4 linked regions of the Homo sapiens genome follow. The protein of the gene in region 2 interacts with the protein of the main gene of each other region in a biochemical or structural test. Each region holds a gene or a part of one and is shown on either strand. Other genes may lie near its edges.

What was found.
Region 1: of the proteins of RIGI (region 2) and USP3, one has a biochemical effect on the other in vitro, tested with the Homo sapiens proteins (one study listed by BioGRID).
Region 3: the proteins of RIGI (region 2) and RNF122 form a complex in vitro, tested with the Homo sapiens proteins (one study listed by BioGRID).
Region 4: the proteins of RIGI (region 2) and CCDC50 form a complex in vitro, tested with the Homo sapiens proteins (one study listed by BioGRID).

The regions. Positions count from the first base shown.
Region 1 is NC_000015.10:63,499,939-63,508,129, reverse strand, and holds the start of USP3 (ubiquitin carboxyl-terminal hydrolase 3), read right to left. Parts: upstream 3,538-8,191; 5' UTR 3,391-3,537; coding exon 3,300-3,390; intron 2,413-3,299; exon of another isoform or gene 2,394-2,412; intron 1-2,393. UniProt on the Homo sapiens protein: Deubiquitinase that plays a role in several cellular processes including transcriptional regulation, cell cycle progression or innate immunity.
Region 2 is NC_000009.12:32,454,323-32,460,862, forward strand, and holds the end of RIGI (antiviral innate immune response receptor RIG-I), read right to left. Parts: exon of another isoform or gene 5,193-6,540; coding exon 5,049-5,192; exon of another isoform or gene 4,720-5,048; intron 3,097-4,719; coding exon 2,800-3,096; 3' UTR 980-2,799; downstream 1-979.
Region 3 is NC_000008.11:33,563,700-33,572,705, reverse strand, and holds the start of RNF122 (RING finger protein 122), read left to right. Parts: upstream 1-5,577; 5' UTR 5,578-5,982; coding exon 5,983-6,007; intron 6,008-6,800; exon of another isoform or gene 6,801-7,130; intron 7,131-9,006. UniProt on the Homo sapiens protein: May induce necrosis and apoptosis. May play a role in cell viability.
Region 4 is NC_000003.12:191,352,783-191,360,927, reverse strand, and holds part of CCDC50 (coiled-coil domain-containing protein 50 long isoform), read right to left. Parts: intron 3,841-8,145; coding exon 3,778-3,840; intron 2,931-3,777; coding exon 2,804-2,930; intron 1-2,803.

The sequences.
Region 1 (8,191 bases), on a different chromosome or scaffold from region 2:
TGTTACTTTTGTTTACAGTCATTCTCTCACAAGCATGCAGTGGGGTGTTCCTGAGGCTGCATGATGTGACATCTCAAGAGACTGAATGCAGAAGCAATGTAAGAATCCAGCTGTCTTCTATAAAGCTGAACAAAGAGTTACAAAAAGGCAAAATAATGCCATTCTTCCCACTAAATTTTTGTTTTGAAAAACATTTTACATAAACTGTCAATTTATGTTATGGGTGTGGGTCTATTATTATTTGTAAGCATATTAATAAATACATATTTTAAGTTTTTCTCAGTTTTAATTTCTAATAAACATCATCAACAGATATAAGCTACACGAAGGCTCTTCAGGTGCTCAACAATTTTTAAGAGTGTAAAGGGGTCCTAAGATCAAAAAGTGTAAGAACCACTGTCATACACAATTATATAACCCAACACACAGTGCCTTCCATGGATAAGAAGCTCATGCTAATTCTGAAGTATAATTACTTCTTACTTCTTGTAATCTTGTTGAGTTCTGTATCTCCCTGTAAAGCATCATTCAGCATAAAGCCAGTCTGTTCTAGTCCCCATTTAATGGGCTTTGGATATTTAATTATTCAGAGTCCTCTTTACAAAGATGTTCTGACCTCTAATACCACCTATTACTAGAACAGTGTATACAAGTTTCTCAAAGTTTTCACAAAAAATTACCTTGTTCATCCTAACAGCAACCTGTGAAGTAAATGCAAAGTATTACCCTTTTCTTTGCAGATTATATAAGGAAACTGATACTCAAAGAAAATAGAACTATTTGTCCAATTAGGTACTGCTAACTGGTAGAACCTAGAATGTTGTGGCATTTTGCAATTTGCTTGGCTGTCTTACCGTGGTATAATTGCAAACTCGCAAAGAAAATAAGGCAAGGGCATTACTTTTATTGTCCCAGTGCCAAAACAGGGATTTTCCCCTCCTTAATAAGAACATAATCAGATTCAATACCCAGTCACAGTATTAGTCAACACATCGGCTACCCTTTTGGTCCCCTATGAAAAAAACAAAAATAAAATAAAATCAAGAGTGTGGGAGAAAAAAAATACGACTATATAACACTCCAAGATAATGAGTTAGTTAAGGACTCACAGATTCATCATTTAATCACTGAAACGACAGGCACGCAAGAACAAGATCAAGCTTAATACAATAACGCTAGATTATATCAACAAATGGATGCCAACGGGTTAAGACGGGAGGCCTACATAAAATGGGTTCAATTCAGAGTGTGGACTCACACAAAGTTGCGAAACTCGCTTTATTGGTTCTACAAATCCAAGTAAGTGACTAGACCCAGGCTTGCAAAGCTATATGTCAGACACACTTTGTTGCAAGATGCAAAGATGTCATCCTACCCCTTGAACAGAAATCACCCCACATACTAGTTTATTCTTGTTATCAGCACATCTCGTTATGCTCCATTTTAACTTATTAAGTTCCTCAAGAGATGCTCAATTTCCTGCATCTCTTTTTCACAGTCAAGTGGACTCCCTGACTGACAGAGGCAAGACTGACTCACAAGAGGGCATCTGCCACTTGCACAGTTCTTTTCCATTTTTTAGATGTATGTGCCCAGTGAAGCCATTTTTAAGTTTGATGTGATTTTACCTAAAAAATGCCAGAAGTGTGCTAATTGTCCATGTTGTCTTTCTGTAGTTTACTACAGATGAGCAAGAGCAATCCCACCATTCCCTGTGAGGTAGGCTTCTCCTAGTGTTTACTTTGGTCTTTTTTTTTTTCTTCAAATTTCTTTTGGGAAAAAAATTAAGTTACAATTATAGCACCACAGCAATGGCTACAGTTATAGCTAATGTACCACCACCAACCAATTTGTAAAGCAGTGCCATACACCTTATTTGTTGTTCTATACTCAACATCCCGACAGATTTACAGGTAAAAGCTAATTTACACAAGTTTCTGCATCCTCACAAAAGAACTGCAATACTGCTCTGTGAAACCAATTAACCGTTAATTTTCAAAGGCTTCATGCAGAAAAAGATACCTGACTTTACAAAGGCAAGCAAAGCATCAGACGTCTGAGCGCGCCAGGAAACCGCAGTTATTTCTATTCCTTATCCCAGAGTACATTTTTCTTTGTGGACCTACCGATGTTGTTTCCAAGAACATAATCACTATTTAAGTAGTAAGCTGTCAAAAGTGCTAAGGCATTCTCTAAACTATCTTCCCAGCTCCGGCCCACAATGAGACATGTCACAGCTAAATCATACCATTGCCGTTTTTCTATATTTCTTCAAATGAACTTCAGATTTCTGAAGTGCACAATTCGAATTGTACGCTATTAATATAACCCAAGATACCAGTGACCATCTCAAAGCTAATAAACAAAGACTAGCGGTGGCACCAGGGCCCTACCAGGAAGTAAGCAAAGCCGTGTGGCCGGTGCGATCCTAAGAAGTCGCTTAGAGCAGACAATGAGAGGGCACTGGGGCTTCCAAGGGGGCCAGCAGGAGTTAAAACGCTTAAGCTACTCAAAAGCCTTATATAAATCTAATAAGTGTTTCACAACACAGGAACTGGGAATCCCAACGCATTTTCGGACAACCCAAAAGGTCTGAAAAACAAACTCGAGCAGTCCCCTCCAAAGCAGCTGTTGGCTCAGCCTCCGAGCTTCTCAGCCCGCAGCCTGTTTTCAAACTTCACCATCCCTGACGGATGAAAGACCCCGACCTCCGCCGCCCGAGCTCCCAGCGCCTCTCGGGGTTTCGAGGTGCCCGAGCCTGCGGAGAAGGGAAAGGAAACCCGGGCCGGGTTCGGCGGAGGAGAGGAGCCCCGCGCGCCCCGCAGCCCAGACAAAGCTGCGCCCGGAGAGCGGCGCTCTTCCCGCCCTGTCTGCGGAGAAGCGCGGCGCGGGCCCCGCCACACGTGCGGCCGCCCCTCGGGGGCCGGACACCCGCCCCACAGGCGACCCCGCAACACGGACGGGCACAGCCCCCGGCCACGGCAGGGCGGGGCAAGGGCGCACGCAGCTGGCCAGGGTCCCCGCCTGCCGCTGCCCCCACGCGCTCGAGGCCTCCGCGGACTCCCGCCCCTCGCGGCCCTCTCCTTCGCTGGCCCGGCCGTCGGGCCTCGGGAAACAAAGGAGCCGCCGCCGCTCCCGCACGCGCCCGCCTCATCGCGTACCCTCCCCAGCCCGCCGGGCCCGGCTCGCCCTCGCCCCTCCCCGAGTCCGCGCGCCGGCCGCCTGCGGCCCCTAGACGGCAGGCCCGGCAGAGCCGCGGCCTCGGGTGCGCTGCGGGGCCGGCCCGTGGCCGCACTCACCGCTGCAGCACCAGGACGACGGGGAGCCGTTGGGGAACTTGGCTGAGTCCGGAGCAATGCAGACGCTGGAGCTCAGGTGTGGACACTCCATGGCCACGAGGAGGGCAGCTGGGAGGACTGCGGCTCCAGGACCCGGCGAGGTGGGGGCGGAGGAACTCCGGAGGCTCCGTCTGGTGTCGCTTCTAGCCGGGCGCTCGGCCGACGGCGGCTGCGTCTCGAGCCCTTGCGTCAAAGAAAGCACGGGCTTCCGGACGCCGGGTTTTCTCGCCCGCCGTCTCCCGGCGCCCCGCTCCGTAGAACGTGTAACTCCGAGATCCGGGTTCTGCAGCCACCCCTAGACTGGAGGCTTCCGCCTTTCCAGGCCGGCCCCTCCCCGCCCCGCCCCCGGGTCCGCCCCCGCCCAGCCCGCGGGGTGGGGTCCCGGCGAGCTCCAGCTGGTGGCGCAGAGTCCGGCTGTGTTCCGAAGTGACTTTCCTAGTCACGCCGCTTCCCCGGCCCCGGGAAGGGTGGGGCGCCGAGCAGGGCACCCCGGGCCGTCCGCGGCGTTTCCTGCGGTGGGCGGAGGATACTGAACCTATGTGGTGCGGACTACTCGGTGGCTTCGTGGTAAAAATCCGGCCGCTCCGCAAAGTGTAAAGAAGAACTTTAAAACCTCTCGGGCAGACAGGCACCGTGGCCCTCATTTTATACACGAAGAAACAAGCTGGGGAGGCCAAGGGCCTGGCCCCGGGGGAGGCGGGCAGCGGGTTTCATGGGTGCCAGGGCAGTCCCGCCCGACTTAGCGTTAGGCTCCTTGCGGCAGGTGCGATCCGTAGCCCTTTCTAGGTTCTGAACACGTGGCGTTAGCCAGCCACCTAGATGCTGCGTGGGTGGGCCCGCAGGGGCGCCCATGAACCCACGTTCAAATCCTGTCACTGTGACTCACCATCTGCGTTACCTCCAGCACATCGTAGGACTTTCAAGCCAGGAAGTTCAAGTGAGATAAACGTAGCCTGGGATTGCTGGGCAAGCTAAACTCCCCATTACCAGGCGATAAGAAGGGAAGGGATCTAGCATTTGTTAGATACCTAAGGTCTCCCAGCCAGGCACTTCCCATACCGCATTTAAGCCTCGCAACACCCTACCAGCTGTTACCATCCCCTTTTTACCGCAGGGGGAAACCGAGTCTGTAACTTGTTGATCTGTATGGAGATTGGATCCCTGACCCTCTGACCTCTTTTTAGTGAGGGATTAGAGAAGAGGGCAAGCCTCAAGGGGCCGCTTGGGCCGGCATACCCTGGATCGAGCCTGCGATCTCACTGGGGCACTTGAGGACGTCCGGGGCTATTACAAATATTGCTTCCAAGTTGGGGCTCCTTGTAAAACCCGGCGAAGGAGCCTCGGGGCCAGAAGGCGAGCAGGAGGAGGGGGAAGACTGATGTGGCAATCCTGCGGCCAGAGCGAGAGGAGGAAGGAAGGTCAGGAAATGATTAACCGGGCCGGGCAGTGGTTAGAGCCGGGCACCTCCCCGCAATGCAGTCCTAGAGCAGCCAGGGACGCCCCGTCAATCACTTCTTACTCCTCCCTACCTCCCACGCCACAAGTCGGCCTCTTCCGCATAGACCTCTGCCTAATGGTATCCACCCACCGGGGGCACCTCTGCTCATCCTTTCCCCAGAAGTATTTCTGGGTCCTCAAAGATCTGTCCTTTTCCAAGTGGTATTTGCTGTTAGAGCAAGCCTCGGCCTGGGATTTTTATGGCAGTGATGCGTTGTGGAAAGTGCGTCTGCCTAGGAAGGCAGGCCGGCATGCTTTCAAATCTTAGCTCTGCTGCCTACTTGACGGCCAGGCTTAGCAAGCGTCTCTAGCCGTTCCAAGCCTTTTCTAGATCTGTAAAACTGGAAGAAGAATACTTGTCTCGCAAGGAACATGTGAGAATTCATGAAAATTGCCACCACATACTAGGTGGCCAATAAATTATAACTTTGTATTTGTTTTTACTGACACTAGATGAGAGCTGCTTCCCTGGGAAGCGGGAGGAGGAGAAACAATAATATCTGCCCTTGGCTCAAGTTCTTCCACCCATCTCTCCATGTCAACCTATTTGTCTTTAAGGCCTTGCTCCACCAACCTTCTGTTTCCTCCGGACACCCACCCCCACTTAGCATCCATAACCCCTTGTTCGGCCCTGGAGCATGACCTCACTCAGGCCATGCTTCATACTGGTATGTAATATTTCTTCACCCTCTCAGAGACTCCGTTTCCTAATCCCCTAGACTTCAGTTTAAACATCACTTCCTGAGGGAGTCTTTCCCGACCCTTTCCCACCCGCAGGGTACCTCCCAGTGTGTGATGTCCTTGTCTGCCCCAACACCGGCTTTTAAAAACACTTAAAACAAAAAACAAAACAAAAAAAAAAACAGTGTCTCCTATATTGCCCAGGCTGGTCTCGAAATCCTGGGCTCAAGAGATCCTCCCGCCTAGGCCTCCCAAAGTGCTAGGATTACGGGCATGAGTCACCGCGCCCGGCCTAAAAACACTCTTCATGCGTGTAATTATTTGTTTAATGTCTCTCTTCCTCTTGTTTGTCCATAAGGTAGCAAACAAGTCTGTCTGGTTTTCTGCTTTATTTCTAACATGCAATGTAGAACATGGAGGATGTCTGATAAGTAAGTGAATACATGACATGAACGGGTGAGTGTGCGGTATGTTAGCCATGTCTACCATGGGCAAGAGCCTAGCAGGTGGCCCAATATTTGCCAATATTTGACCCCTAGAGATGATCTCTAAATTTCCTTTCAGTTCTAGCTTTATGATTTTAACGGAATCAGGAATGTGAAAGTGCTTTGTAAGGTGTAAGCTATTTTAAGGGAAAAAAAAGTTTCCATTAGTGACTTCTCTCCCCAGCTAGAATAAAAACCCTTGGGAGCAGGGGCCCTAATTTAGTCCCGATTGTGATAGTCCCCAGAGGGCAAGCTCTATCAGGCAGTCCAGAGAAGTTGGGCAAAATCAGAGAGGCCCTCCTGGGGCGTTTGCTAGATTTCCCTAAAATAGTGAACTTTCCTGTGTCTTTGAAAGTTTCCATAATAAGAAAAGAGTGGAGAAAAAGAAACCCGCAGTGAGTAAATGAGTCAAATGGGGGAAGACCATGAGGCACACTGGGAAATCTGCCTTTTCAGTCCCTCGTTTCTTCAGCTGCATTTAATACAACATTCGCGTTTTTATTCTTGGCCCGCATCCCTCTGGCACTGAGGAGCTCTGACTTACATCCCAGGGAGCCCTGATGGTGACGAGCCAGCCTCCAGCCTCCAGCTCCCGTGCTCTTGAGTGCGCTGCTCCCGGGATTCCCCACCCAGCCCTCTGGACATCCGGGGGCGGGGAGGGAGGGTGGTTTCCGCGGCAAAACCTGCCCGAAGCGGCGGGCCTGTTCTAAAAGTTTGCATTTTTCAAAGGGGAGGAATGCAAAATTGCAACCGTACTATCAAATGTTTCTCTCCTAAAGGATAATTGTGTATATACATGGAAGTGGGGTCGGTAGTGAGGGGAGGGCAAGGTCATATATTGCAGGGGAACCACTTCAGGAAAGGTCTCAAGGTTGCCGCGATTTTCCTAAAACCTTAAACTTAGGACTTTTGGCAGAATTGATGGTCCTTAACCAACAATTACAAGGCAGACCAGGCCCTGGGGAAAACTAGCTCTGACTATCCTCACCCAGGGAAGGCTCATTGGAAACACTCCGAGAGATGGCTTAATTATTAATATTTACCATAGAGATTGTTCTAGGAGCAACGCCTCCTTGGGAAACCAAAGTTATATCAAGAGGAGGCTTGGTAAGTGTTGGGGGCAGGGAATGGGCCGCTGCCGCTCAGAGACTCTTCTGTTGCCTGGTTTAATTTTCCTAGTGGCACCTATCTAATATTTCCTTGCATGTTTACTTGCTTATCTATTGTCAGTCTCCATGAGAACAAAGATCTTGCCAGTGCTGTTGGTTGCCTGATTTCCAGCCCCTGGAATACAGCCTGGTAGGTGGCAGGCCCTCAGTAACTATTTGTTGAATGACTAAATAAATGGAGAGGGGTGGGTGTGGGCTCCAACCACCCAGCTCTCACTTCCCCACTCAGGAATACTGGTGGTGTCATTCTCCCCACTACTTCCCATTTACCCCTTTCACATCATCTCCCTGCTGGAATTCTTCAGTGGTTCCCCACCTTTTGGAAAAAATCCAAAACCCACTGCTCTCACAGGTACCTGGCCCCTCCCTTTTATTATAACTTTTTTTTTTTTAACTGTTACAGAAGTATTTCAAATAGTCCCCTCATAGAAATTGTGCTTCCTCATACCTCCGTGTCCTCCCCTGTCTGGTCCCCTTCTACTTGGTCTGCTCCTACTCCTTCCCCATGAAGCACATAGCCTCTTCCGGGAAGCCCTCCGTCACTCACCCAAGCACACTTCTCACATGGTGCTGTTATTTTCTGTTCACATTTCAGTCTGTCTTGGGAATAGGTGTTTTGTTTTTTTTTTTTCATCTGAGGATTTTCAGCACCTAGTTCAGCAATAGCAGATCTTAAAAAATTTGTCCACTGAATGTTGTTGGAAGTGCTCCTTTTTAAAGTGATTACAGCAATAATTATATGATATGGTCCCCTAAGTATTCAGAGAAAGGACCTCAACTATTTGAGAACGGAAACTTACATGTTATTGGGTCCCAACTAGGTGTCTGATACTGTGGCAACTTGTTGGGACCCAATAAATACTATGGTTTTTATTTCTTCTTTAATCCTTCCCCCCTACCAATGCAAAAACAAAAAAACAAAAACAAAAACAAAACCTTGGAGGTGGATATTATCATCTCCATTTTACTGGTGAGAGAACTAAAGTTCAAAGAATGTTAAATAATTGCACAAATTTACACA
Region 2 (6,540 bases):
GTCTGTTGTTTGAAATTCAAATAATAATGAATCCATTTTAAGGACAGGAATTGGTTTACTGACCTTGATGTTGGGATGACTCTTCATTTCAGGGTGAAAATATCACAGCATCAGCACAGGCCAGGACCACAGAGATAACAAGGTGGTAGTTGTGTAACAGGTTGTGTCTGAACCACAGGAGCTTCAAAACATACACGGCTGGACACCCTGCCAGGATGCTCTAATGGGGCTGGGCATGTGTCCATGAAAAAGACTCCCCAGTTGTTTCTAAAATGTGGCCTTTGTTCTAGAAATGCAATGACCAGCATTTGGGAGTCAGTCAAAAGATCCACTTCCTAAAAGCCTACCTGCTCATTTCTTTCATTCAATACATATTAACCAAGTGCCTACTTTGTTTGAGTCCATGCCTGGCAATGACATTATTCCATTAAAAGTCAAACAAGGAAATGCTAAGTTCTCCTTATTTATTTTCACTTCAGTCTGCCTGCCTCAGTTGGCTGAATAGGGCTATTCACCTTCATCCAAATTGAATCATTTACATACTTAAAAGAACTTTTCTTGGCCAGGCATGGTGACTCACGCCTGTAATCCCAACACTGTGGGAGGCCGAGGCAAGTGGATCACTTGAGGTCAGGAGTTCAAGACCAGCCTGGCCAACATGGTGAAACCCCGACTCTACTAAAAATAAAAAAATTTAGCCGGGTGTGGTGGTGGGTGCCTGTACCCAGCTATGTGGGAGGCTGAGGCAGGAGAATCACTTGAACCTAGAAGGCAGAGGTTGCAGTGAGCCGAGATCACACCACTACACTCCAACCTGGGCAACAGAGTGAGACTCCATCTCAGAAAAAAAAATAATAATAATAACTTTTATCTTATTAAATCTATTTCTAGTAGATGTTTTACACATCCTATTGGAGTTCTTAAACAATAGTGTATTAGTCTGTTTTCACACTGCTATAAAGAACTGCCTGAGACTGGGTCATTTATAAAGAAAAGAGGCTTAATAGATTCACAGTTCCACATGGCTGAGGAGGCCTCAGGAAACTTACAATCATGGCAGAAGGGGAAGCAGGCAAGTCTTACATGGCAGCAGATGAGAGAGAGAGTGTGTGTAAAGGAGGAATTGTCAAACACTTATAAAACCATCAGATCTCATGAGAACTAACTCACTATCCCAAGAACAGCATGGGGACAACTGCCCCCGTGATCCAATCACCTCCCGTCAGGTCCCTCCCTTGACACATGGGGATTATAATTCAAGATGAGATTTGGGTGGGGACATATAGCCAAACCATATCAAATAGCAATTAAAAAAAATCACATAAGAAAAGACACTCTTAATAAAATACAAATAGAAAATGAAAAAAAACCAACTCATAAACTTGGTTTAAATAATCCATTTGTATTGGGTCTTAGTAAGAATACTACTACTAGTAACTATTATCAAGCAACTACTGTGTCATGTACTTTTCACACATTCTTTTAATTAAAAACTCTCCACTAACCCTTACAGTTCAGTATTATCCTTGTTTTACAGATGAAGAAAAGCCAAAGAGAAGTTATATAACTGGCAAGTTTCTCTGGCTCCCCGCCTGCACCACTGCTCACCAGATTGCATGAAGAGGGAGGCAGCTGTAACACCTCATCCCGTTGATCTCCAGGGAACTCAGATACTTGTTTCCACGTCCAGGAAACCGCAAACTAAGCTCTTTGAAGCATCAGCAAACCTTGCTAAGTGACACGTGAATGCCATTTGGATACATATTCTAATCTTTCAAGTAGAAAGGACAGTCAGACTGCCTCATCTGTAACATCCAAGGGATCTGAGAACAGACATTCAGTCCAGGTGTTGAACATCAACATCATTATAGGAAAATGGTCAAAGAGAACAATGGCACACGTTAAGAGAACATATTAATAGGGCAAGATGTATAGTAAACTAAGTTTTCAAGAAGTATTTTATCATTTTTATGCTCTCTACTAAAAGCTGACCACTGTAGAGTGGATACACATTGCTACATACAGCAACTCTACAGTGGACAGCTTTTAGTAGTAAGCATAAAAATGGCTTTATGTTCTCATGTTCTCTGTGTAGCCATACCACACGTTGCTACACCAGGAACATGAGTACATATAACCATTACATATACATACCTGTATGTATGTATATTAGTTACATATACATATGTACAGTATATACATGTATATATATTGAACCCTTGGAAGGGATCAGCAAAGAGGAGGACTCAATAAAAAAAGACTAGAATAGAACTAGAAGAGAGAGAAGCCCAGGGAGAGCTTCAAGAAGAGTGCTCAACAGGGCCAAATGCGCAGAGGTCAAATAGAAGGTTAAGAAGTGCCCAGTGGATTTGGCAACCAGAGTCACTGGTAACCTTCAAAAGAACAATTTCAGTAGATTGTTAAGGGCAAAAGCCAGTTTACAGTAGGTTAAGGAGACAAAGGGAGATAAAAATTCCCAACATTCCATTCATTCATCTATCCCAGTGTGTACAGAGTGATTACTGTGTGTTTGTTGGCAGTTGACTCTAAAAAGAAGGCTAGAAATGAGGCTTTTTAATTTTTCCCAAGTACTATGAGCTCTGTTGGCCTACAAAATACTCAGTGCTGTGATTCACTCATTTGTGCTTTGCATATATAATATAGTACAAACTGCTAAAGATATTTTTAAAAAATATATTTTCACAGGGGTACAAGCGATCCATGATTATACCCACTATGTTTGTTTCTTCTCCACTCAAAGTTACTCATTCCCTGTAGCTGAAGATTGAGGACCTGATATCATTTGGACATTTCTGCTGGATCAAATGGTATCTTCTCAAAATGAAAGTCCTTCCACTTCGAGTACAGTGTCTGAACTCCAGTTGCAATATCCTCCACCACAAAACTTTCAATTTTTATAACTGGAATCTCAAATGTCTTGTACTTCACATGGATTCCCCAGTCATGGCTGCAGTTCTGTCGGGCACAGAATATCTTTGCTCTTTTTTCAAAACTTGAAAACTGCTTTGGCTTGGGATGTGGTCTACTCACAAAGCATTCCTTAAAAGCATCTCCAAGCACAGTGTAATGGCATTCCTACAGATGAAGGGATGGAATAACACACAAAAGAGAACGTTAGAACCAGTACATAATTGTGATTTAAAAAAAAAAAAAAGAAAACCCCACAATAATCTGAGGCAAAGAACAGGTGGGTCTCACTTATTTTACAATTGGAGGAAAAAAAAAAATAGATTCACCCAAAGTCCAGAGGATCCATGCACCTGACTCCCCTCTACAGGCAGGGTGGGGTTGCAAGTGAGGACACTGGGCACCTCATAAAGAAGAAGATTAAGAAGGTTCCAGGTAACCCAGCTTCTGAAGGTAGATACTCATTATTCAAAAACAGAAGCGATGTTTGCTGAAAATTTGTGAAGCTGAAGTTCACCAGTGGCCCTGGCAGGCACAATCCAAAGGATACAGGGAAAACGACCAAGGTCAAGATGCAATTGAAGAAGGTCAGGGACTAATGTGTCCACAGGCCCCACCTAGAGTCAACTTTAGAGTAAACAGCTCAGAAACAAATGCAGATCCAACATACTAGTCCCTCAGGAAAACATAGGGTCTAAAAGGGCCATTTTTAGTAGAACAATCACCCAAATTGGAGCTGAAAGGACCTTTTACAGCTAAAGAAGCAGACTTAGAAAGGTAAGGGAACTTAGCAATATGACTCCTAATAGGCTTTTTGCCCAAACAGCTGAGCTGATGAGAGATTTCTGCTTTCTGAAGACGAACGGAACATCCTGAAGTAATAACTCCTCATCTGAGCCAGCCCAGCCCCTCCACTGTGCCCCCCATGCAAGAGTTATACCCCATATTTCTCTTTGGAGATTTTTCTAACCCTTTCTCTGAAAGTTTTAAGAAAGAAATATAAGGCTGCAATAGAAGGCTAATCTGCAGATGTCACATTTTACAAATAAGGAGATATTTTGTTTTCATTATAAAAGTGATCCATAGCCCAAAAGGAATGTTTGGAAAACATAAGGTAGTAGGAAAAGAGAAAAAAAGTCATGGAATCTCACCACCAAAATATTAATACATTTTGGTATAGTTCCCCTAGCCTTTGTTTTTCTGTAGCAAGGTAGGTTTTTTGACTTTTTCTCTTGACAATGACAATGAATGTATTTGCTGCTGTTGTTTCACACAGCTACAAAGTAGCATCTTTACAATTCTGTGTTCTGGTTACTTTTTTCCTTATTACCATTAGTTTGTAAGCAGTTTTTCATTATACTACATAAACTTCATAATTTTTTAAAATAAACTTTACTTTGGAACAATTTTAGATTTAAAGAAAAATTGCAAAGATATCCCAGAAAATTTCTGCATACCCTTTACCCAGTTTCCCCAAATGTTAACATCTCATATACCACAGCACATTTGTCAAAACCAAGATAATTAACATCAGTACATTACTATTATCTAAACTACAGATTTTACCACTCTTTCTCTAGTTGTATCCTTTATCTGTTCCAGGAGCTAATCCAGGACACGTCATTGCATTTAGCATGACTTTTTTTTTTTTTTTTTTGAGACAGAGTCTTGCTCTGTCACCCAGGCTGGAGCGCAGTGGCGCGATATCAGCTCACCGCAACCTCTGCCTCCCGGTTCAAGCGATTCTCCTGCCTCAGCCTCCCGAGTAACTAAGATTACAGCCACCTGCCACTACGCCCAGCTAACTTTTTTATTTTTAGTAGAGACGGGGTTTCACCATGTTGGCCGGGCTGGTCTCGAACTCCTGACCTCGTGATCGCCCACCTTGGCCTCCCAAAGTGTTTTGATTACAGGCATGAGCCACTATGCCTGGCCAAAAACTATTTCTTTATTATTGAACATTTAGTATTTTTTTTTCACTTCTTAGCTTTTTTTAAATACACAGATCATGGCCACAGTAACAATGGAAATAATAGTAGTTTTATTATAAATATTTCACCAACAGTAAGCTGTAGCTAGTGCTAAAACATGACCAGGCACTTTGTAAAAAGGCAGCTTACCTCTATCACTCTTACGTCAGCTGTGTAACATGCCAAGGCTTTGCACTTTCTGCAGAGCAGTTTTTTATTTTCCTTATCAGGTACAGGTTTTGGTTTTTCTTGACTATCTCTGATGAATTTTTCATGAGTCTGTATATGCAGAATCTAATGCAAAAAGAAAGACCGCAAATGTAATTTGAGTACAACATATATAGCAAGAAACAGGCACAGATACGTACAATACATATACATGCACGCACATGTATAATCATTCATATACAACTTCCATGAACATATGGTACCTGACTTTGTAAAATCACAGATTTTATTGGTTCTCCTAACTTAGTATTAGTCAATGCTTAATTGTGGCCTCCAATTAGTCTTTCAATTTCTTCATCAAAAATGCTCATAAAAGCACTAAAGATGTCCATAGAATAGTCATATGAACTATGCTTTCTACTTTAGTGTTTGGCAAAACTTGGGAAAAAAAACAAAACCTGTACCAGATATACAATATGCGCTGTTTCAGGCATAATTATATCCATTTGCAGGCACAAACTCAGTGAGTGATACAACAGGCAGAAGAGCCCCTGATATGGTTTGGCTGTGTCCTCACCCAAATCTCAACTTGAATTGTATCTTAACAGAATTCCCACGTGTTATGGGAGGGACCCAGGGGGAGGTAATTGAATCATGGGGGGCCAGTCTTTCCTGTGCTATTCTTATGATAGTGATTGTGTCTCACAAGACCTGATGGGTTTATCAGCGTTTCCACTTTTGCTTCTTCCTCATTTTTCTCTTGCCGCTGCCATGTAAGAAGTGCCTTCTGCCTCCCTCCGTGATTCTGAGGCCTCCCCAGCCATGTGGAACTGTAAGTCCAATTAAACCTCTTTGTTTTCCCAATCTCGGTTATGTCTTTGTCAGTGGCATGAAAACAGACTAATACAGCCCCCAACATCTAAAACCTTTTTTCTCTCTCCCCTTCAGCCACAGGGAATATTGTTGCATATGTATAGTATGATTGTATTCTAATTCAAAATCTAGGCCTTGGCTAAGAACATGGTCCAACTTAGAACCATGGACATGATATTATAAAACTCTTCATACCAATAAACAGAAAGATCTCAAACTGAATGAAAAAAAAAGACAATCATAGATGCCAACACTGAGAAGAGAAAGATTTTAAAGCACCTAATAAAGATGCTTCGATGGGCAATTATAAATACTTTTGAAACATAAAGAGAAAACATAAAGGCTCAACAATGAAATGGAAGACATAAAGTTTAGAACTGAAAGATACAACCAAAATAAAAAGTTCAATGGATGGGCTTTCCATAGCAGAATGGAAGGGACAAAGAAAAGAGTCAGTGAACTGAAAGAACAACAGAAATTACCCAATCTGAACAACAAAAAAATACACTGGGGAAAAAAAAAGCGCAAAGTCTCAAGGACCCGTAGGACTATAAAAAATGATGTCATGGCACTGGAGTTCTGCAAGGAGTGAAGAAAGAGC
Region 3 (9,006 bases), on a different chromosome or scaffold from region 2:
GTGGTCAGTAAAAGGTGGTCTTCTCCTCTCCTTCACTTTTTTCTCAAATCTCCACTCTCATTCATACATGAGATGGTTCAGCTGTGGCCAGACTGTTGGCTTCGTTCCAGAAAGCAAAACGTAGCAGGACTATGCGGAATTCCTGGGAAACCAGGTACGCCTGAACTCCATAGCCTTTGTTTCCTCCCAGCCTCTGCTGACACTTAGGAAAAGCATCAGAGCATTCCCTAAAGAAATACTTTAATTAATAAAAGCCCCTGGCACCATCCCAGAACTGCCCCAGCTTCTGGAGAGACAAAGTGTTTTCCTCCTTAGTCACACCAATGCCTTTTTCTCTGATTGCACTTTCCACGTGGTTTTCGAGCTGACAGGAAGGGTGGGAAATTGCTGCTTTGCTTTCCTGGAGAACCACAGACTAGGACCTGGGGGCATTGCTGGGTAGATTATGAACACCTTTGGCCAAGAGTTGCATCGATCCCCTAAAAAAACCTAGGTACTGGCCAGGCGCGGTGGCTCATGCCTATAATCCCAGCATTTTGGGAGGCCGAGGCAGGCGGATCACCTGAGGTCGGGAGTTCGAGACCAGCCTAACCAACATACGAAAAATACAAAATTAGCCAGGCGTGGTGGTGCATGCCTGTAATCCCAGCTACTCAGGAGGCTGAGGCAGGCGAATCACTTGAACCCGGTAGGCGGAGGTTGCGGTGAGCCGAGATTGCGCCATTGCACTCCAGCCCTGGGCAACAAGAGCAAAACTCTGTCTCAAAAAAAAAAAAAAAAAAAAATTCCTGTTACTGAGACTTCTAGGGTATCTGGACAGAAGAAGGCTAGATCTTCCAAGAATAAAAATTGCAGCCGGGGAGACAGAGCAAGATCCTGTCTCAAAAAAAAAATAAAAAGAAAACGCGAAGGCTTCATTTGCCCAATATACAATGCACGACTCTCAACACCTTCAAAGAATTACATGCCCCTCCCATGAAAACGCTTCTTTTTTTTTTTTTTTTTTTTTTTTGAGACGGAGTCTTGCTCTGTCGCCCAGGCTGGAGTGCAGTGGCGCGATCTCGGCTCACTGCAAGCTCCGCCTCCTGGCTTCACGCCATTCTCCTGCCTCAGCCTCCCAAGTGGCTGGGACTACAGGCGCCCGCCACCACGCCCAACTAATTTTTTGTATTTTTAGTAGAGACAGCATTTCACTGTGTTAGCCAGGATGGTCTCGATCTCCTGACCTCGTGATCCGCCTGCCTCGGCCTCCCAAAGTGCTGGGATTACAGGCGTGAGCCACCGTGCCTGGCCTGAAAATGCTTCTTATACAAAATTTAAAAGTTTGGGAAAATATTGTCACAATTTGTCTAATTCTGAAACATGACATGTTTACTTGGGGTTATTTATCGTTTTTTTGGTGGGAGGGCAGGGAACTGGGTCTCACCCTGTCACCCAGGCTGGAGTGCAGTGGCACAATCTCAGCTCACTGCAACCTCTGCCTCCCAGGCTCAAGCCATCCTCCTGCCTCAGCTTCCTGAATAGCTGGGACTACAAGTGCACTCCACTATGCCCAGCTAATTTTTGTACTTTTTGTAGAGATGGGGTTTTGCCATGTTACCCAGGCTGGTCTTGAACTCCTGAGCTCAAGTGATCTGCCTACCTTGGCCTCCCAAAGTGCTGGGATTACAGGCATGAGCCATGGCCCCCAGCCATTTATCATTTTTTACAACCATCCATGGTTACCATTCTCTGCTACATTATCGGGTCACACTTGGAGGCCCATGAAAGAGGGTGTCTTACTAAAGATGAAAGGAGGTGATTCAGGCCTTTTCCCCCATGCACCTCCACAGAATTGACTGCTTCTCTCCAGAGTGTTTCTCTAATGTTCACAAGGCCTTAAAATGAGGGGGCTCACGGAGTGTCTAAGAGGAAGCTGGAGTCAGGCAGTGGGAATAAAAAGAATCCCTTGACTCCTCAGAAGCTTTCCTAGGCCAGGCACGGTGGCTCCTGCCTGTAATCCCAGCACTTTGGGAGGCCAAGGCTGAGGGATTGCCTGAGTTCAAGAGTTTGAGACCAGCCTGGGCAACATGGCGAAACCCCAGAAAATTAGCCAGGCATGGTAGTATGCGCCTGTAGTCCCAGCTGGTCGGGAGGCTGAGGTGGGAGGATCGCTTGAGCCTGGGAGGTGGAAGTTGCAGTGAGCCGAGATGTCACCACTGCACCACTGGGTGACAGAGCAAGACCCTGTATAAAAAAATTAATTAATTTTAAAAAAAAGTTTTTCCGGAAGTTTAGTATTATTTTTTCCCTTTCCATGGAAGATTTTAAAACATATTTCTTTCTTTTCTTTTCTTTTGTCTTGCTCTGTTGCTCAGGCTAGTGTCTAGTGGCACAATCATAGCTCACTGCAGCCTTGAACACCTCAGCCTCTGGAGTAGCTGGGACTACAGGCATGTGCCGCCATGCCCAGCTGATGTTTATTTTTTGTAGAGATGGGGTCTTGCTATGTTGTCCAGGCTGGTCTCCAACTCCTGGCTCAAGCTCCTTCACCTCAACCTCTCAAAGTGCTGAGGTGTGAGCTACCACACCCATCCTAGAAACATATTTCTACCTCATATTTATCAAGTAGCTTTGAATATATGGCCCATCATCTTCTTTACTGTTTCAGTTTCTTCCTCAATAAACCAAACTAGTCTTCCTGACTCATGTGGAGCTGAGTCACCTGGTGGTGAGGGTGGAGGAGTGAGAGATCTAAATTTGGTTGACATGGTGTGAGAAATCAGCTTATCTTTCATAGAACCCTTCAGTCCAGGAAAATGCTGGGACTGAACCAATCATTTCAAAGATGCCCAGAACCAAAGCCCTTCTACCAACATATAACTCCCAATGTCAGCCATCAGTTGAGGTCCTGTGGCCACACTGGCCAGGAGGGACGAAGGGAGGAGAGTGTGAAGGGATACAGCAGTTTTTCGAAATTGGAGTCCTTAAGTGCCTCTGGAGATCTTATTGAATGCTTAAAATATCAGGCTTAAAATATAAATTGTTGCACCTGTAATCCTAGCTGCTCAGGAGGCTGAGGCAGGAGAATCACTTGAACCTGGGAGGCGAAGGCTGCAGTGAGCTGAGATCAAGCCACTGCACTCCAGCCTGGGCGACACAGAGCAAGACTCCGTTTCAAAAAAAGAAGAATTTCCATCATTCCTACCTTTAAGGGTGTTTTCCTTCCAAGAACCTCTAGTCCAAAGGCGAGTGGGACGGGAGGTGTTCCTCACTTCCCATCAATTTTCCCTTCAAAGGCTCTCCTTCTTTCACAGTCTGGCGCTGGAGGCAGTTAGCAGGAGAGCCTTAATAAAATTAGGATTACCCATCACATCTCTCCCCCGAGCCAATGAATAGAAAGAACAATAGTTACCATTATGCACACTTTTTTTTTTAAAGACTTTATTTTTCAGCGTAGTTTTAGGTTCACAGCAAAATTGAGAAGAAGGTACAGAGTTCTGATACACCCCCAGCCCCACACATGTATAGCCTCCCCCATTAATCCTAGCACTTGGGAGGCTGAAGCAGGCAGATAGCCTGAGCTCATGAGTTTGTGACCAGCCTGGGCAACGTGGCTAAACCCAGTCTCTACAAAAAAAAAAAAAAAAAAAAAATTAGCCGGGCATAGTGGTGAGTGCCTGTAGTGCCAGCTACTCAGGAGGCTGAGGTGGGAGGATGGCTTGAACCCAGGAGGTGGAGGTTGTAGTGAGCCAAGATCATGCAACTGCATTCAAACCTGGGCAACAGAACCAGACCTTGTCTCTAAATAAATAAAAACAACAACAAAAAAGAATATACACAGCCTATGTTCAAGGAAGAGTAACAACAAAAAGCTTCATGGCTGATGAATAGTGTGTGGTGAAGGGGAGTATTTGAGTATGAGGAAGACTGAAACAAATAAGGCTAGACTGAAACACTTTATTTTAATAGTTTTTTCTTTTTTCTTTTTGAAACAGAGTAGTCTCATTCTGTCGCCCAGGCTGGAGTGCAGTGGCACAATCACAGCTCACTGCAGCTGCATCCTCGACTTCTCGAACTCCAGTGATTCTCCCACCTCAGCCACCAGAGTAGCTGGGACCGCAGGTGCGCACCACCAGGCCCAGCTAATTTTTGTATTTTTTTTACAGGTGGCTTCACCATGTTGCCCAGGATGGTCTCAAACTCTTGAGCTCAAGCAATCTGCCCGCCTCAGCCTCCCGAAGTTTTGAGATTATAGGAGTGAGTCTAGACTGAAACATTTTGAATGCCACACTCTAGTTTACAGAACTTTATTCAGTAAACACTGGAGACCAACAAACGTTATCAAGCAAAGAAATGTTCAGATTTACATTTTACAGAGATAATTGTGACCAGAAGGGATGGACTTGAGAGTGAAATCAGAGCACTGTTTCTTTCAATAGCCGCATGAGAATTTGAGGGGTGGGGAAGACAAGGCACATTAAAATGAAAATTTCTGGGTCCACCCTTTATTGAATCAGAATCTCTGGGTTCAAGGCCTGGGAATCTGCATGTTACATCTCAAACATAGGAGTGATTCTTGTAGGCTCTGAAGTCTGAGCTATAGACTAGAATCAGAATGGCCAGTTAGGAAGCTTTTGCAATTATCCAATTAAGAAATGAAATGTCCTGGGTGCCATGGCTCATGCCTGTAATCCCAGCAATCTGGGAGGCTCAGGCGGGAGGATCACTTGAGTCCAGGAGTTCGAGACCAGCCTGAGCAACATAGTGAGGCCACTCATCTATACAAAACAATTAAAAAGTAGCTGGGCTTGGTGGCAGGCACCTGTGGTCCCAGTTTCTTGGGAGGCTAAGGTGGCAGGACTGCTTGGGCCCAGAAGTTGGAGGCTGCAGTAAGCTATTATTGCACCGCTGCACTCCAGCTGAGTGACAGAGCAAGACTCTAACTCAAAAAAGAAAAAGAGGGCCGGGAGCGGTGGCTCACGCCTATAATCCCAGCACTTTGGAAGGCTGAAGCAGGAGGATCACTTGAGGCCAGGAGTTCGAGAACAGCCTGTCCAACATGGCGAAACCCCGTCGCTATTAAAAATACAAAAATTATCTGGGCATGGTGGTAAGCGCCTGTAATCCCAGCTACTCAGGAGGCTGAGGCAGGAGAATCACCTGAACCCGAGAGGCAGAGGTTGCAGTGAGCTGAGATCGCGCCGCTGCACTCCAGCCTTGGCGATAGAGGCAGACTCTGCCTCCAAATACATAAGTAAATAAATAACAGATCTGTAGGCGGAAAACAATGTGGCAGTAATTGTTCCTTTGCCTTGGTGTCCCTGGGCAAAAGGCAGGCCCCCACTCCGGGGCATCGCTCGTCGCCGCTCCATTCTCTGCAGACCGAAGTTTCCCCAGGCCTGGGAAGACTAAGTGGGAGGCGCCCACCGTGCGAAGATCCTCCCGGCTTCCAGGGAAGGGAGGCTGGGCCTGCAAATAATAGCCGGGGGCAGGAGAAAGGCTCCGATTGGTCGGAGGGAGGGTGACGAACAAGGGGCGGAGTTTTCCTGGGGACTGGTGGGGGAAGTAAAAGGGAGGGGGTGTGCACCGCCGGGTGTCAGTTTCGGAACCCCAGCCAGCTCACCTCTGCGCCGCTGAACCCGATCCGAGCCTCCGGCAAAGGTTTTTCCCTCCTCCCCCGGCCGAGGGCTTCTGCAGCCCGGGCACCCCCGCCCCGCGGCGCCCCACATTCCCCCAGCCCGGGGCCCTTGGCGCGTGCGCTCCGTGCGGCTGTGCTCCGCGGGACTTTGTTTGTTTCCTCCTCGTCCCTCTTTGTTGGGCTGAACACCAGCCTCGTCAAAGCCCCCCACTCCGGAGGGAGTTCGGCTTCTCCAGCAGGGCGGCTGCAGCGCGCTGCCCCGACCCCGCCTGCGGCCCCTCACGCCGCTAGTGCTCCCACCCCGCCCTCCTGGCACCCCGCCTGCGTCCGTTCGCCCGAGGAAGCCAACCGCGACTTCATTGATGCACCCATTCCAGTGGTGTAACGGTGAGTCCCCGGGGCGAGGGCCGAGCCTACGTGGGGCTGGTGGGAGCCGCGGCGCGGGGTGCGAGGTCGGACAGCAGCGCGCTGGTCCTCCCTCGGGAACCAAGTTTCTCCTGAAATGGGACAGTCGAGAAGGCGTCTTGGCGCCCCACTCTGCTCTGCACAGCGCGGAATTTGAAACTATCCAGGTTTCACTCCAGAGCCTGGAAGGGGCCTCCGGACTGGCGGCGGGCCGGGGGCGTGGGAGCCGAGGGGTTCCCGGCCTTTGTGTGGCGGCCCGGCTCTTCTACCCCCTTCCCCTGCCTTTGTGCGCTCAAACTCTGTTCTTTGTTGTGGTTGTTGGAGGAGAATTAAATCCGCACTCGGGCTGGGATCTCCTAGAGGGAGCTCAAGTTCCCGGCCTGAAACTTTGCAGGCTATTGTAAATATGTATACCGTGCAGCGTGCGGGACTGGGCGCGGGGGTAGCTTCCTCTGGCTTTGTTGGTTTCCCACGGGCTGCTGGCGTGGCTTGGGTGCTTGCGGAAGACTGGATTAAAGAGTCGCTTTCGGCCAGGCGCGGTGGCTCACGCCTGTAATCCCAGCACTTTGGGAGGCCGAGGCGGGCGGATCACCTGAAGTCGGGAGTTCGAGACCAGCCTAACCAACATGGAGAAACTCCGTCTCTACTAAAAATACAAAATTAGCCGGGAGTGGTGGCGCATGCCTGTAAGCCCAGCTACTTGGGAGGCTGAGGCAGGAGAATCGCTTGAACCCAGGAGGCGGAGATTGCAGTGAGCCTAGATCGTGCCATTACACTCCAGCCTGGGCAACAAGAGCGAAACTCCATCTAAAAAAAAGCCGTTTTCCTGAGTTGATAAACCCTCGCAGAGAGCTCCGCGCCCGGCTGTCCCTGGGGTGCGAGGCTGGCCTGGCGGGAGCCGTGTTTCTGGCCACAAGGCCAGATTAGGGTGTCTGCTCCTGAGCCCAAGTGAAGGCCACACCTCCAGACGCGACAACCCCTCGCCCCATTTCTCCCCAGGCCTGGGTGATGCTTCTAAGTTAGTTCATTTCACCTGAGGCTTTTTGGAGGTTCAGGTGATACTGGGTTAGGCTGGAGTCTGATTCCTCAGCGAGCTACCTGAAAGGTAGGTGTTTCTGAGCGGGACACTTCAAAACCTTGGATACTAATCGCCCCCCACCCCACCCGCTCCAGTCCTCCTGGGGTCCTAGTCTTGACCGCGTTGTTCCGATGCTTGGAGAGTTTCTGGGAGAGAGAGATGGGAAGCAGCTGGCCTTATCTCTCAGTATGGCAAGCGAGCTAGTTACAGGGGGAAAAAAATCATTCTTTAGAGTAGACTCCTGCCAGATCTTGGATTAATTATGTCAAGAGGCTTTGTTTTGAGGCAGGGTTTGGGTAGCATGTATACCCCACATCCCCCCACCCCGCCTTCCTCCTTTTGCTGGTCGGATCTCATTTCCTGAAAATGAACCAAGCCGTGTGTGATAGGCGGTTTTGTGGGAGAGGGGGCAGAGGATGGGGGTTGAGGAAGGCCCTTGCACCCTAGCATCTGGGAAAGATTCCCGTTGGCTGGGAAAGAGAAGCAGTTCCCAGATCCCCTGGTCTTTCTTGGCCAGCCCTTGTCTGACGTCATTCCTGCTCCCAGCCTGCCAGATGAGATGAGACATTCTGATGTCAGTGCTTTCATAGGTTGGCCGAGACAATGGAACAGAGACTTAGGGAGAAATGAGGCAGCTGTCAGTAACACTGCCCTTTCTGGGCAGCGCCCTTTCATATCAGATTTTAGACTTGCTGCTTTATTTTTTTTATTTTTTATTTTTTATTTTTTTGAGACTGAGTTTCGCTCTTGTTGTCCAGGCTGGAGTGCAATGGTGTGATCTCGGCTCACCACAACCTCCGCCTCCCGGGTTCAAGCGGTTCTCCTGCCTCAGCTTCCCGAGTACCTGGGATTACAGGCATGTGCCACCATGGCCGGCTAATTTTGTATTTTTAGTAGAGAGGGGGTTTCTCCATGTTGTTCAGACTGGTCTTGAACTTTTGACCTCAGGTGATCTGCCCACCTCAGCCTCCCAAAGTGCTGGGATTACAGGCGTGAGCCACTGCGCCCAGCCTACTTTAATTTTTTTTTTGAGAGAGGGTCTCACTCCGACAACCATGCTGGAGTGCAGTGGCACGATCAGGGCTCACTGCGGCCTCCAACTCCCAGGCTGAAGGGATCCTCCTGCCTCAGCCTCCCAGCATAGCTGGAACCACAGGTGTGTGCAACCATACCTGGCTACTGGCTAATTTTTAATTAATTAATTAATTAATCTACTTTTTGGGGATAGGGTTTCACTACATTGCCTATGCTGGTCTTGAACTCCTGGGCTCAAGCAGTCCTCCCACCACGGACTCTCAAAATGCTGGAATTACCTGCAGGAGCCACCTTGTCTGGCCCTCTTTGCACTTCTTAGAAAAGTGACTGAGAGATCCTGTCCTTTGACTCCTGTGAAGAAGCAACCCTTCCCTCACCCCTTCAGAAACTACCTGGAGCCCCTCTTTCCTGGGGCTGGTATTCTCTGTCCTTATACAGTTTTAAAGAAAAACTTACTACAGTGTCAGCTTTTGACCAGTAGACTATTTTGCCATTTCTTTAATAGTAACACAAGCAAATGAACCATCTCCTCTTGACTATGCTCTTCCCACCGACCTCTTTATCACGTGAAATACCAAGCTCACTGATTCAATCAGTGGGAGATAAAGGGGAAGCCTTTATCAGGCAGGATAAGTTGGTGGGGATAAACTGATCAGAGGACTTGCGGGGACCATCGTGCTTGTGGAGTGCACAGATATCCTCTGTAATAGCTCTGACCAGGTTCTGCAAGTTCCCAGAACTGGAAACCAAAGGAGGTTTCAGCTCATAAAAGGTGCCTGGAAGAACTAAGGAAACGGGGGGTTAGACCCTCTTGTAACATCAAATAGTGCGGGGGAAGGAGGTGAGAAAACAGCTGGGAGCACCAGGT
Region 4 (8,145 bases), on a different chromosome or scaffold from region 2:
GAGGCTGACACGGTCACATTTACAGATGAGAAAACTAAGGTCCAGGGAAGTTGCATCATTTTCTCAAGATCACAACGAAAATATGTGGTAGAACTGGAATCTGATCATCACACCCAACAATGGAAAACTCCACACCTCTTCTATACCACCTATCACTTCACCCCACTGGGGCCTGTTTGACGGTCCTGCCTCTACCACTAATAACCACAAATCATTCTCTGTCATGCCATGTTATAAGCTATAAAAAAGTGTACACTTAGTAACTTCACATTACAGGTCTAATATCATAGTATTCTTATCTATTCAAACCAAAGAAATGAAAATAAACAAAAATCTACTCAGACCAATTGCTATTTATATTTCTTCTTTTCCTTCACTCATTGTAATAATTAAGAATCATACACAAAATCACGGACTTAGTTTTCAAAAGCCTCTGTCTTCATTCAAGCCTCTACCTGAACCTCCCAAATTAATGTAAAATCTGTATAGAATTAATTGACTAATAACTACATTGGATGTGATAATAAGTGGGAAGAAAGTAGAAGCACCGTAGAGAAGGCAAACCCAAATGAAGTGTTAAAGGTCACAAGTGACACAGAAGATGTATCTCCTGGTACAGAAAATAAATAAGTGAAGCTTCATCTGAGTTTAATGATTTCAAACCATATTTCCAAGAAGTACCATCTCTGGTTCAGTCAGCTAATTATACAGACTCCTGGGAAAGCGAAACTGAGAAAGCAGTAGTAAACAAGCGGTAATCCTGACTTACGGCAGCCCGGGTATCCAGACTGAATAAAAGGTTCCAGTTCAATGAAAACTGCAGCATTTCATCCTTCCCAAGATGTACAGCTATTAAAATTGCCAGGGAGTGAACTGAAAGACTTCCCTTCTAGCTTACTTATTTCATCCAGGAACAATTTCAAAACCTTGAAGTCTCAGGCAGAAATATAATACCCGGTTCTTCTCTCCTTTAGGACCTATAAAATATCACTCTCTACTCCTGATTTATATTTGAGTGGTTTGTCTTGATAATTTCTGAAAAAGCTCATTATACTGTTATTAACCTAATTCAGGATTTTAAACATCTGCATCAACCTCAGAACTGGCCTTTCTAACAGAGAATTGTGAATAATGTAAAGGGCAATGAATTTAGAACTCTAGAACATTCTAGCTTTGGTTCTCACCTTAACCTGTGACACTGAGCCTCATAACATCTCAAATATCTCTCCTCCTCTTTACATCTCCATTACCATGACCTTCAATTTAGGCCTCATCATCTCCTTCCTCTCTGTCACCACTGTCCTCATTCAAGCCTCACCATCTCTTAATTTGACCATTGCTCAACAGCTGCCTTCAAATCTTGCCCACTCCAAGCCTTTACCCACCTAGTCTACAGAATAGATCCCAAAATGAAAATCTGAAACTACTTCAAAGGTTCTCCATTCCTTATAATTTAAAATCTACAAAACCTGAAATCTTTAACATAACTTATCGTGACCCTTTTGATCCAGCTTTTGACTACTTTCCTGGCCTCACTTCCTACTTCTGCCTGTAAATACACTCTCCACTCCAGCAACACTGAACTTCTTGCAGCTAACGTGAGATTGATTCCAAGTCCTCTTACCTCCTGCCCTTATGCATGCTGCTCCTTCTGGCTAGAATGGTTTTCCCCATCACTATAAACTTCTAATTAACCTTCAAGTTTCAGATTAAACACATCGTCTTGTGAAGCTTTTCCCAGTCTCTTCTCTCTAAATAGGCCTGAAATTTACATTTCAATTCTCTGTGACTCATGCACGTATCTCTAGATACACAATGCTCAAGGTGTTTTCCTGAGGCCCTTAAAGGCAACAGCTGTCTTATTCATATCTCTGGTCTCCTTTCATGGTGCCAGATTTAGCATGAATCAATAAAAGTGTTTATTTACAAAATAAGGGAAGCTTAACAAAATGATTAATAAAGTCCTCTCTACAAATAATAAACAGAAAGACAAACCCTTCCTATAAGTTAGCAAAAATGACTGGCTTTCCTTTTTACCTGAATATGACACTGAAGTAAATTAAGGGGTTCCTTCCATTTTTCCTTTACCCCTTCCTCCTCAACACAGTATCTGTGGTTAAATCTACCCACATTAAAGATTTAGGATGTAAGAGCCACTCTCAAAGAAGAAATGTATCCTGGGAGCTTTATAACACTGAAACAGAATAAAAGTCACTGTGCCAAAAGAAACCTGAGAAATAATCATTTCCGTTTATCTGTGTGTTAAAGGAGGCTACTAGAGAGAACTTTTGTCAGACACTGAAGTTATGAAAAAAACTGAGTCTACACTTCAGAGCTTTTCAGAACATTCTGCTATGTACTGAAAAGCAAGGAAAGTAAGAGCGGCAAACACAGCTAGAACATAGTAAAGGAACCAATACAACCCATAAAGTTATTTGATGTCCACTATTTCACTGGATCCCCCAAAGAAACTATGAGGCAGAGGGGACAGAGATTATTATCCGCATGTTATGGGTAAGGAAAATAAATTCAGAGAAGTTGACTAACTGGCCCAAGGTCATAACAGCTAAAAAATGTTAAAATTCACACCATCATCAACATGTCCTTAAACCTGGTCAAGTGCTCCAACAAAAACAAAACATTTTCAAATCAAAAAAACTGTTAGACATCCAGGGTAAGATTTGTAATCTAACAGTAGAAGGAATCAGAGGAACAGAAGTAGTCTCCTTCTCCCCTGCCCTGGTTGCTAGCTCCACAGAGAAAACCAGTCTTGCATCACCCCTCCCACCTCCCAAATCCTCACAGGTCTTTGTAGCGCTTCTGGAGCTGGGCCTGCGCTTTCAGATCTTCCTCTTGGAGCTGCTTAGCCACCTGGAGATCATGCTGGACCAAACGGTTCCGCTGAACGTTCGATGCCAAATGATGCTCAACTGGAACAAAAAGATTGAGGACAGGAATGAATAATGTCTTGGTTTGTTAGTAATAAATGCCATAATAATCTTAAGAGCTTTACCATAACAACAGCTTTGCATCCATCACTTCATTTTATTGTCTCAACAACAATATATAATAAAGAGCAAGGAATTATTATCCCCACTTTTCCATTAAGTAAAAAGAGGATCAAAAAGATTAAATAATTTGCCTTTGGTCACACGGCAACAAAGTGGCAGTGCCAGGACATCTACACAAATATTCTAAAGCCAGGGCCAATGCTCTTTCTACTACTACATGTTGTCACTCTATTTATTAACCGCATTTTTCAAAATGTCAATTTTATATTGATATGTGAATTCACAAATCATATATTCACAAGTATGTACTTTAATATAACATGCATAGCTTAGATTTACTTTTCATCACCACATGGAAAAAAAGATTCAGAAAAATTCACAATGTGATCTCATTTATACCACAGTTGCCTGGGAAAACTGTTCAAGTCCCTATCCTAGGAGCAAGAATAGATTCCTTCTACGCACCCCAGATAAATCTACAACCATTGTGTCCCTCCTACAACAAGAGGCTAGGAAAAAGGTTCAAACCTCTCTTTTTCCTCCTACAGACGCAGCAGTCTACTAATTCCTGGCAGCCTATCTTACTTAACATGCCCGAAACTTCACTGATCACCCAGGCATCATTTGCCTAAAGAAATCCTTCAGGATGTATGGATGGTGAAGCCAAGTGACTGTGCTCTCTCCCCACCTAAGCCCTAAGAAACCAGCCTCAAGCTACCACTAAAAAAAGAAAACTGAAGGAGCATAAATGAGAGGTATTACTCACTCTCTTGTTCCTGCAGGCTGTGAGCCAGGGTGTGGTCCTCCAGGACAGCAAAATCTCGGCATACTAGAGTAGATGGAGGAAAAACAGACAGGAAGGCTCATTAGTAATACTTTAACATACAAAGGAAAGGATTTTTTTTTTTTACTTTAAAAAAAATCAATTCTAATATTTCAGAATGACACACTTTATAATTCTCAATGCATAAAATAGTGACTAGTTAAGTATGCAGTCTTTAGTCACAAAAATCTATAGTGCCTGCTTAGTGCCAAGCACAGGGTGTCACAAAATACTGGTTAGCCTTGGCCCCTGGCCTGAGGTGAGAACATTTACAGAATCAGATTCCAGAGGTCTAGAAATTCCAATCCACTTCTATAAATGGAGGGTTAAGTGCTGCTGAAATAACAGACGTATCAGTCATGCTTTGCATATTGCTACTGAGAGAGAACTGAGTTACTGCATAATTAGAGGTGTTAAAAGAAATCTAATCTATGCTTCCCTGTGGTTCAGACGATCCTCTCCCAGCAATTTATGTCTACCCTGGCGTCTTTCAAGAAAAAATATATTTTCACTAGTCCCTCAGGTAGGGGCAGAGCTCTACTTTAAAAATTCTTAATTTCTTAAACATTCTTCAGTGGGTCAATCCCCAGGGACATGAGTTAGAACTAGGTCTCTAGGTCCCTCTAAACCTTGGGCTGCCCCAAAATAATCTACAAACCAAAAGAAAATGGGAACCCTGAAGGAAACCAGGAATCTGCCCCAACTCTGCCTCCACCTGAAGAGCCAGGCAAGGGCATTTCCTGACCTGTCTTCTCAGAAGCAAAATGGGAAGAAATGGTCTTGAAGAAATGGTTTGGGGTAAACAATGGTATCCATGTTTACCCCAAGCTGCAATTTAAACTCCTGCTTCGTAAACATACAAACAGACAAAACATGAAGGATTCATCATGTAAAGTGCTGTTTTAAGGACGTGTAGTTTAGGTGATATGTTCTCACTCTATTCCAAGCATGTAATTCATGTTAAAAAAAGGAAATTCCCCAAAGCCTCAGATTACTGCAATTGAGTAGGACTCATGAAACATTCCCCAGGGCTTAGGAAAAGTGATAGATTTCTTTCCGAAGCTTTGGATTTGCCTATGAGGACACTTAACTGAAACAGAATGAAAAACGTTCCTTTGCCGTTCTTTGCACTTATGTATGTTCACATATACACTCAACATTAGTTGTGTCCTTCACGACTGAGGGATAATGCCACAAAAAGGGAGGGAGATCTTGGGGAGGTCAAGATTATTTTGAAATGGTTTTATAATGGAGGAATAATTCTTGCCCAAGAACTATATTCAACTGGATACAACCTGCTTAATCCTCGCTCAAACATAACAGCAAAACCAGTAATTCGAACAGAAAGCCCTGTTCTTTTTCATCAGCTTTTCATATTCTCAACCGATTCTAATATCTTGAAGCCCAGGTCCTAGTTACCTTATGTTTCACAGAATAAAAGTAGTTTCAAGATGAGCTAGATAACACCCTCATTTAATAAGTGAGGAAACTGAAAGCCAGAAGGAAGAAGGGGTTTTCTAAGGCTGTACAGAGTTCACTGGTGACAGGGCTTGGGGGTCAACATCTAAGCCAGCAAGAGCTCAAGAGCTCCTTCCCCTTCCCTGACACAATGATGGCCCTCCTTCCCTCCAGGTAAATCATGGTAAGAATAGACAGAAAGAAAATATTCTACATTAACCATCGCATATTCTCTAAAACACTTCAATTAATTAATATCTAATTTTTAAATGGGTAAGACATACACGGACTTAATTTACAAAAATTAATGAATTAGCTAAAATAAATATAATCAAATCTTGTGTAAAGAATGTTATTTTAATGTATTGACCTATCATTTAAAACACCTTTATTATACTGGAAAAGCTTGTGCTTATATATTAAAAGTCAGTCTTAATTTTAGATTAATTATGATTAGATCAAATTTAAGATTACTCTTAATGATTTTCAAATTATGGGTGGCAATCTATTATTAGGTCAAAAAATCAATTTACTAAGCCTGAGAAAGGCATTTTAAAAGTCAATAGTCTAGAGAATAACAGAGGACAGTTGGCTCTCATAGCCCTGAGTTTTGGATTCATGGATTAAATCAACCACAAATAAAAAATATTCAGGAAAAAAAAATGTGGCTGTACTGAATACATACAGACATTTTTTCTTATCATTGTTTCCTAAATGAACGGTATTAGGTAGTATAAGTAATCTACAGACAATGTGAAGTATACAGTAGAATATGTATGAATTATATGCAAATACTACCCCATTTTATATTAGGGGCTGAAGTATCCATAGATTTTTAGTATCCATGTGAGGTCTTGGAACCACCTCTACACCCCACCCCACAAATACGAAGGGACTAGTATAAATCACACACAGTACAGGAAACTAGTTTGGGGAAACTTTTCCCGTATTATATATAAACATCACAGAAATATATACATACAGAGATGATAGGTACTAGGTCAAAATGTAAAACACACATCATTCTATAGATTACAAAAAGCTTAAAAGCCACTTCAATTTATGTTATTAGGTCAGAACGTTACGCCAAAAATATGTTTTCTATGTTTCTAATACCATGCTAACTAAAATTAAAAATTATGAAATTATTACATTTTTCCATGTGGAGAATCATGTGAAGAACTACAATAATTTTAAAAATATTTCTTAACTTCAGTCAGCAGAACATTAAACATTAAAATATAGTTTGTAGATAGATATACCTATGGTTAAAAAAAATTTTTTTAATAATATGGCACTGACACAAACTTAACTCCAAACAGTAGTTCTCTCTCCAGAGAGACGAAGAGGGGCATGAGTGCCTTAGCTGCATGAGCCATTCTGCTTCAAAAGCAAAAAGAGAAAAGATACACAATAAGGCAAAATATTAACATTTGATGTGGGTGGTAGGTTCATGGGTTTTTCTATTTCCTGTGCTTTTTAAATGTCTTACATATTACATTTTAAGTTCTATAATTAAATTCACTTATTTCATGTTGTCAACAGCACATATTGCTAAACCATGAACATGAAGATATGGTTTGACACATTATAACAGGTGTGAGAAATTTCCGAATTGCTGATTACCTTGATGACTCCTCATAATGATTTCTTACTATCTCAACAGCAAGACTGAAGTATATTCTATTATTGCAATTTGTCCCTGAATCTGCAGAAGCTGAACTAGTACCCAAAAGATATGAGGAGGGCCTGAGCTAGAAGGGGATCTGGAAGATTTTCAATGATTATGAGGAAGTACATGAACACATACACACAGAGAGTTGTATTGTCAAATACACTGACTTTGCCCTTCGGAGGTTACTAGGAGTTTCCAAACATATAATCTCATTTATACTGAAATATTACTTGCCCAATATATAATTTCTTCTGAACCCACTCTAATTTTTTTCAAGATTTGCCTCTGTATTCCCTCCATCAGTATTCTAGCACAACCTGGAAAACAATCACATATTCAGTCAACTTTGTAAATCAGTAACCAGATTGAGAATTACTGAAACTATTTCACAGCCAGGCCACGCTCAGAGCATGAAGAGAACTTTTCTCCTTTTCTAACCTCCTCTGCCTTCGATGTAAACAGCATAAACAGCCTACTGAGGATAAACGGCATACACTCATCTTCCCACCTTTCTCTGTGGGCACATTTAAGGTGAACCACCTTTCACCCTCCCATTTCTCAAACTTTTTGCCTCCCATGTTCACCTTCACTCATTCAGAACTCAGGCTGACCTTCTTGCCGTAAGCCAACTCTATCAACATCTTCTACTAGTCCCAGTCTGCTATTAAAATGAGCTTCCCACCATAGTCAATTACACAACTATTCTTTGTTCCCACCAGATCTCAATGGTCCCGTAGGCTCTCCCCTCTGCCCAGACATTTTCCCAGTGTTAGGGATGGTGGCTAAGTCTCTTTTGAACATTAAAAGCCGTACAACTCTGCCTCATTGCTTAGAAGAGCATTAACAGAAAGAAATGCACTTTGCTCTGAAATTCGAGCACACAGCTGCTTCCCTATCCAGCTGCAAGCTCTTCATAGCAGGGACTTTGTGGGTGTACTTTCTGCACCTTCCACACAATGTGTGCTCGTTAATTGAAAGAAGTTAAAAAAAAAAAAATAAAGCTGGATCATAAAGTCAAACAAGAGTAGGAGAAAGGAAGAAAATAATGTCATAAACAGAATTAAACTCTGCTATTATGACAGCATAACACACTAATATGTCAAACATCATTTAAACAAATTTAGTAATAAACAAACTACATAAAACTAGAACCCTATCCCCATTCTCATTAAAGGAGT